Regions from separate parts of the Homo sapiens genome. Here region 1 is reported to be linked to region 2. Evidence: microRNA targets listed by miRTarBase, many of them from high-throughput screens and not tested one by one. Region 2 holds a microRNA gene; the other region holds the end of a gene's coding sequence.

Region 1 (3,082 bases), not on the chromosome of region 2:
CAAGTAGCTGGGACTACAGGCGCCCGCCACCACATCCAGCTGATTTTTTGTATTTTTAGTAGAGATGGGGTTTCACCATGTTAGCCAGGATGGTCTTGATCTACTGAACTCGTGATCCACCGACCTCGTGATCCACCTGCCTTGGCCTCCCAAAGTGCTGGGATTACAGGTGTGAGCCACCATGCCCAGCCTTTTTTTTTTTTTTTTTTTTTTAAAGAATGAGTTTTGCTCTTGTTGTCCAGGCTGGAGTGCAATGTCTCCACCTCAGCTCACCGCAACCTCCACCTCCCAGGTTCAAGCGATTCTCCTGCTTCAGCCTCCCGAGTAGCTGGGATTACAGGCACCTGCCACCACACCTGACTAATTTTTGTAGTTTTAGTAGAGGCAGGGTTTCACCATGTTGGCCAGGCTGGTCTTGAACTCCTGACCTCAGGTGATCTGCCCGCTTCAGCCCTCCAAAGTGCTGAGATTACAGGGATGAGCCACCATGCCCAGCCATCCCCACATCTTGAGGCCAAAATCCCAGGCATGTGGCTGGGCTCAGTGGCTCACACCTGTAATCCCAGCACTTTGGGAGGCCAAGGTGGGTGGATCATTTGAGGTCAGGAGTTCAAGACCAGCATGGCAACATGGTGAAACCCCGCTTTTACTAAAAATACAAAAATTAGCCAGGTGTGATGGCGGGCACCTATTATCCCAGCTACTCGGGAGGCTGAGGCAGGAGAATTGCTTGAACCCGGGAGGTGGAGGTTGCAGGGAGCCAAGATCGGGCCACTGCACTCCAGCCTGGGCAAGAGTGAGACTCGGTCTCAAACAAAAACAAAAACAAAAAACAAAATCCCAGGCATAAATCAGACAAGCCATGAGGGTTCATTCACAATGATTTATTGGCTGCCCCTCCACACCGAGCTGAGGTGGACAAGCAAGAGGATGAAACCTCCCCAGGACCCACCTAACTCCCAGGCATCACAGGAACAAGGCAATTTTCCAACAGCCTGGCAACGTCTGGGACTCCAACGAGGTCTGGGCCCAAACCTCACCTGAGACTGGCCACGCCCGTCCCATGCACCCACCCCTCTCAGACATCCTGGTGACCTAGGCTGAGATGAGGGTGACCAGGAGGGACCCTTCAGCTATAATATCATCCACCTCGCTCACACTGAAGCAGGCTCCTGGCCCGCCCAGCAGCAGCACAAGGCTGACCACAGAGCAGGTAAGCATCTGTATGTTTGTTCAATGGCTGAATGAGTGACAGTGGACTCCAGCCTGAGGGAGACCTGATACATCCAGGTCCCAACTGTGCACACTCAGAGCCCCTTGATAGAGCTGGATCGTGGAACCCCAACCAGCTGTTTCCATTTCTTTGGTTTAGGGGGAGCCTGAGACGAACAGATCACAAGCCTTTCACGCCATCTGATCTCTCAAGCCTGCCCTAGACGTGTCTACTGAGGGCTTCCTTTGTGCCAGGGAACTTGTGCGTTTCTCTGATCCACACACACGAATGATCTAAAATGCAAAGCCATTTGCAATCATAATTTCCAACTGTCCTGGTCTCCCCTCCTGACTGCACGAGGCTAGGAGCATGTGAGCCTTTTTTAACTGCAGCTTCGCATCGGCCCTTCCGTACAGAGGGGGGCCAAGGGTCTCCACTATACAGATGGGGAGCGCCAAGCTCAGAGGAGGAAGGCAACTTGTCCAGGGACGCCCAGCAAGAGTCGGGACTTTCTGGCCACGTGAAAATGTCTAGCCACTGAGGAGCGTGGTAAGAAGAGACTTTGAAATGGCAGCACCTGGCTCACAGGTACTTAGAAAATGTCCATCAAATGAATGGATCTCAACATGGCTTGAAGTTCTTCAGGAGTCAATATGCAATTTTTTTTTTTTTTTTTGAGACAGGGTCTTGCTGGAGACAGGTCTTATTGGCCAGGCTGGAGTGCAGTGGGAAGATCTCAGCTCACTGCAACCTCCACCTCCTGGATTCATGTGATTCTCCTGCCTCAGCCTCCCGAGTAGCTGGGATTAAAGGCGTGCACCACCACGTCTGGCTAATTTTTGTATTTTTGGTAGAGATGGGGTTTCACCATGTTGGCCAAGCTGGTCTTGAACTCCTGACCTCAGGTGATCTGCCCGCCTCGGCCTCCCAAAGTGCTAGGATTATAGGCATGAGCCACTGTGCCTGGTCAAGATGCAATTTTAAAGAAGGAAAAATACAACTAAGAATATCATGCCAACCAGTGACATTCTTGACTGGAGCTGCTGCCAGGATTCTGTGAACCCCTCCAAAAGCTGTGACTCTATGGGGTCCTGGCAGAGAGAAAGAGGGAACCCCGATTTCTACAAAAGTTCTTCATCCTCATCCCCATATCTCAACCCCCACATCAGCCCTGGAGGGTGAGCCAATGACCCTGATTTGCAGATGGGGAAGTCAAGGCCAGGAAAGGATAGATCTGAGCGCAGGAAGCCTCCCAGCTCAGAGGGTCCTGGGTCCGGGTCCTCTCCCCGGTGCCCCTTGGGCCACCCCCTAATCCGCCTTCTTGGCCTTCTTCTTCCTGGAGCCCTCGCTCAACTCCTCCTTGGACTTGGCGGGCATGGCCGAATGCTGAGCTCCTGGCCCACCACCGCTGTGGGACCCACCATGGTTGTCGTGGTGATGGTCACCCCCGCAGGCCGAACCAAACAGCACGGGGCAGATGTAGCCCTCCAGGGCATCAAAGGGGGAGCTGTGTGAGTGGGTGGCTGTCAGAAACACCTGAGGTGGGGTGGCCAGGGAGACAGCAAGAGAGACAGAGGGAGACCAAGGTAGAAAGCAAAGGAGTGGAGGGCAGGGTGGGGAGAAGAGGGGAGAGAATGTCATCAAAGTCAAGGTTGGAGGTAGCCCAGACCCAGCCCTCTGGCTGCATGCACCCCCAGGATGATGGGCGACCATCTCAGGTTTCCCAGGATGCCAGATTTCAAGTGTTGACCCCTGGAAAGTTCCAAGCACACTGAGACTGCTGGTCACCCATCCCCCAGAATTCCCCACGACACCTGGGCTCAGAGAAAAGCTGTGCTAAGTGCAGGTCTGAAGGTCTGTGTCCTCCCA
Region 2 (3,153 bases):
TCTATTTAATTAAATATTTATAGTAATCCTATAAGCTAGGTATATTTTTTTTCCTTTTACAAATGAATTTGAAGCTTTAAAAGAAAAGAAAAAAAATCATACAGCTGATAATGGTGGAGAAAAGATCCCAATTCAAGCTTGCCTTTCTCTCTAGTCTATTCTTAACTCCTTTGTAAATTGCTGGTTGCCATTTCACCAAGTGGCCTATCGAGCTGACCATGTCTTTCTTTTTTTTTTTTTTTTTTTTCTTTTTTCTTCTTCTTTTTTTTTAGACAGAGTTTCTCTCTTGTTGCCCAGGCTGGAGTGCAATGGCACAATCTGAGCTCACTACAACCTCCACCTCCTGGGATCAAGGGATTCTCCTGCCTCAGCCTCCCGAATAGTTGGGATTACAGGTGTGTGCCATCACGCCCCGCTAATTTTTGTATTTTTAGTAGAGATGGGGTTTCGCCATGTTGGCCAGGCTGGTCTCGAACTCCTGACATCAGGTGATACACCCGCCTCGGCCTCCCAAAGTGCTGGAATTATAGGCATGAGCCACCACTCCTGGCCAGCCATATCTTATACACAGTGATCTTAACCAAAGCCTCATACTCAAATTTAGTTTGCAAGACGTTGCTGAAGATAGAACGCACTGCTGATATGGCTATTGAGAGGAACACAGCCAAAGACAGCTAATTTGTCTTTTCTTGCTGCTCGAGGAAGACTTTAAAATTTGAACCTGGCAGCATAGGTTGATAAAACTGAACTGCAACATGTGCTACCCTTCAAGAAAAAGAAAGGATAGCCCAGAGGGTAGAGCCTCAGGCCCTGAGGGCAGAGGCCTGAGCCAAAGCCTTCAAGCCTGAAGGAATTTGTCCTACTGGATTTCAAAATTGCTTGGGATTAGTGATTCTTTTCTTTCCTCCTTTTTCCTCCCCGGTTAAATGGGAATGTCGATAACGGTTACCCATGCTTGTCCCACCATTGTATTTTGGAAGAAGATAACTTGTTTTCTAGTTTCACAGGTTCACAGATAGAAATTTTGCCTCATCCTGGTCCATATCCAGAGTCTCATTTATACCTGATTTAGATAATTTATATGATGATGAGATTTTGGACTTTTGAATTGAAAATATATAAATGAGAGTTGAGACTTGATTTCATGCTGCTATGGGTTGAGACTTTGAGGATGTTGGGATTGGGTTAATGTATTTTGCAGATGGGATGGATGTGAATCCTTGGGAACCAGAGGATGGCCTGTAATAGGCTGAACAATTTAACAATGCCCCTCCTCAAAGATATCACATCCAAATTCCTGGAACCTGTAAATGTTATCTTACTTACAAGAGAAAAGGGTATTTGCAAATATAATTAAGTTAAAAATCTTAAGATGGAGAGATTTTTCTGCATTATGTGGGTGAGCCCCAAACGCTATAATGAATGCATCGTTAAAAGAGAGAGGCAGAGGGAGATTTAACACAAAGAGAAGAGAGAAGGTGATGTGATGACCTCAACAGAAAGAGAGAAATTTGAAGATGCTATGCTCTATCTTTGATGATGGCCAGAGGAGCCATGAGTGAAGGCGTACAAGAGGGGTCTTGCCACTGAAAAAAATAAGAAATGCCAGCATCCACCAGAAGCCAGAAGCGGCAAGGAATGGATTCTCTCCTGGAGCCTCTGAAAATGAACATGGTACTGTCACACTTCGTTTTCAGCCTACTGATAGTGATTCCCGACTGCTGACTTCTAGAACTGTGAATCAATTGCTATTATTTTAAGCCATTAACTTTGTGGTAATTTATTACAGCAGCCACAAGAAACTAATACCTTTGGTTTTTCAGCGTTTCCTATTTTACTACTGTGAGGGGGCTTATAGATTGCAAATGATGGAGCAAACAGCAGTGTTTCTCAGATCACTAGAAGTCTGCAGCAATAGGCTTAGTATTCACATTATAAGATTGTTATAAAATTGTTCTAATTTTGTATTTGCCTTCCCTTTGGTTTCTAACATCATCATTTTACATTATCTTAACTTTTTTTAAATTTCAGAGAGATCCAAACATTGGTTAAAACTTAGCTAACACTAAGGGTGCATATAGTTGAAACTGTTGGAGCTGTTTACTACAGCACTTTCTATGCCCTTCTAGTTCTGACTTCTAACCCTGATCTAGAGCCACGATGATGTATTTCCCTCACCTTCTTTGGTCACAGAAGGAGGACATTTCACCCAGATCTGCGGCCTAATCACAGGCCACATTTCTGAATAGGCCACGGATCTGGGCAAAATGTCCTCTTTTCTCAGGAGCTCCCCAAACAATAAATCAGTAAATCATATGAATTTTTGCATGAAGTTTTATGAATAGTGGCTTTCTTCTGGGAATACCTCCCTTTTTTAACTTCCTCTGATTTTTTTCTGGACTATGTATCAATTTTTTTCTTTAATGTTTCTTCTCTCTTTATGCTGATTATCATCTCTTTAAACTTACCCAACTCACAGAAAGCTACAAATTTTTGCACTTCCCCATCCCACATGCCTATAGCAGAGTCAACAAACCATGTGAGCAGCAGAAAACTCATGTCCTATTTAAAGAACACGCTGCTTTCTGAAATGAACATGGCAACTAATCTGCCAATTAATTATTTGTCAATAATGAAACTGCAGCCACATTGGCTTTTGACGTGATTGTAATATTCCAATATTATACTAAAATTTCATGTTCTGGGAGCCCTGACAACTTTCAGTTAGATGAGCTCTAATTAGAAGTTTCTAGTGCTCAGTACTTTCCACTATGAACTAGCAACTACACATAGAGATCTACAATCTGATCTTTCATCATGAAACTTGAGATATAAGTACCTTGATGCTTCAACAGAGCTAAACCAAGGCTCCACCTCTTCCTAATCATGCTCCAACCAGTATTTTTTTTTAACTTAATGCCTTTTATTCATTCAACAGCTTGCTTTGCAGAGCTCACAGCTGTAACAGATGTGTCCTATGGTAAGCTCTTCCACAGTAACTGTAGCCTGTTGGTCATGAGCTTCCATTTGTTGAACTCTACATTGTGACTGACAAACTTGGCTGCACCTTAAAATTACCTGAAGAGCTTTTAAAACTTGCTGTCAATTAAATCAAATTCTCTGAGAGTGGGACCTAATGCTCAGTGTGTTTTT

Evidence for each region. Region 2 holds the annotated microRNA hsa-miR-1295b-3p (AAUAGGCCACGGAUCUGGGCAA, at 2,245-2,266, shown strand). A microRNA usually pairs through its seed, bases 2 to 8, with sites in the 3' UTR of a target mRNA and lowers its output. Matches are read on the target gene's strand: a 7mer-m8 pairs with bases 2 to 8, a 7mer-A1 pairs with bases 2 to 7 and ends in A, and an 8mer does both.
Region 1: the mRNA of TMEM38A is a reported target of hsa-miR-1295b-3p. Seed matches in the 3' UTR shown: 7mer-A1 at 2,156-2,162.

What each region holds. Positions count from the first base shown.
Region 1 is chr19:16,687,811-16,690,892 of GRCh38, reverse strand. It overlaps TMEM38A (transmembrane protein 38A), which reads right to left. Exons shown (of 6, transcript NM_024074.4): 6 at 870-2,749. The coding sequence ends at 2,522. Among named protein-coding and RNA genes, the nearest start is that of TMEM38A, 28 kb to the right of the region's middle.
Region 2 is chr1:171,099,533-171,102,685 of GRCh38, forward strand. It overlaps MIR1295B (microRNA 1295b), which reads left to right and starts at 2,207; the gene lies at 2,207-2,266. The region is part of intron 2 of FMO3 (flavin containing dimethylaniline monoxygenase 3); the gene reads left to right. It overlaps MIR1295A (microRNA 1295a), which reads right to left and starts at 2,274; the gene lies at 2,196-2,274.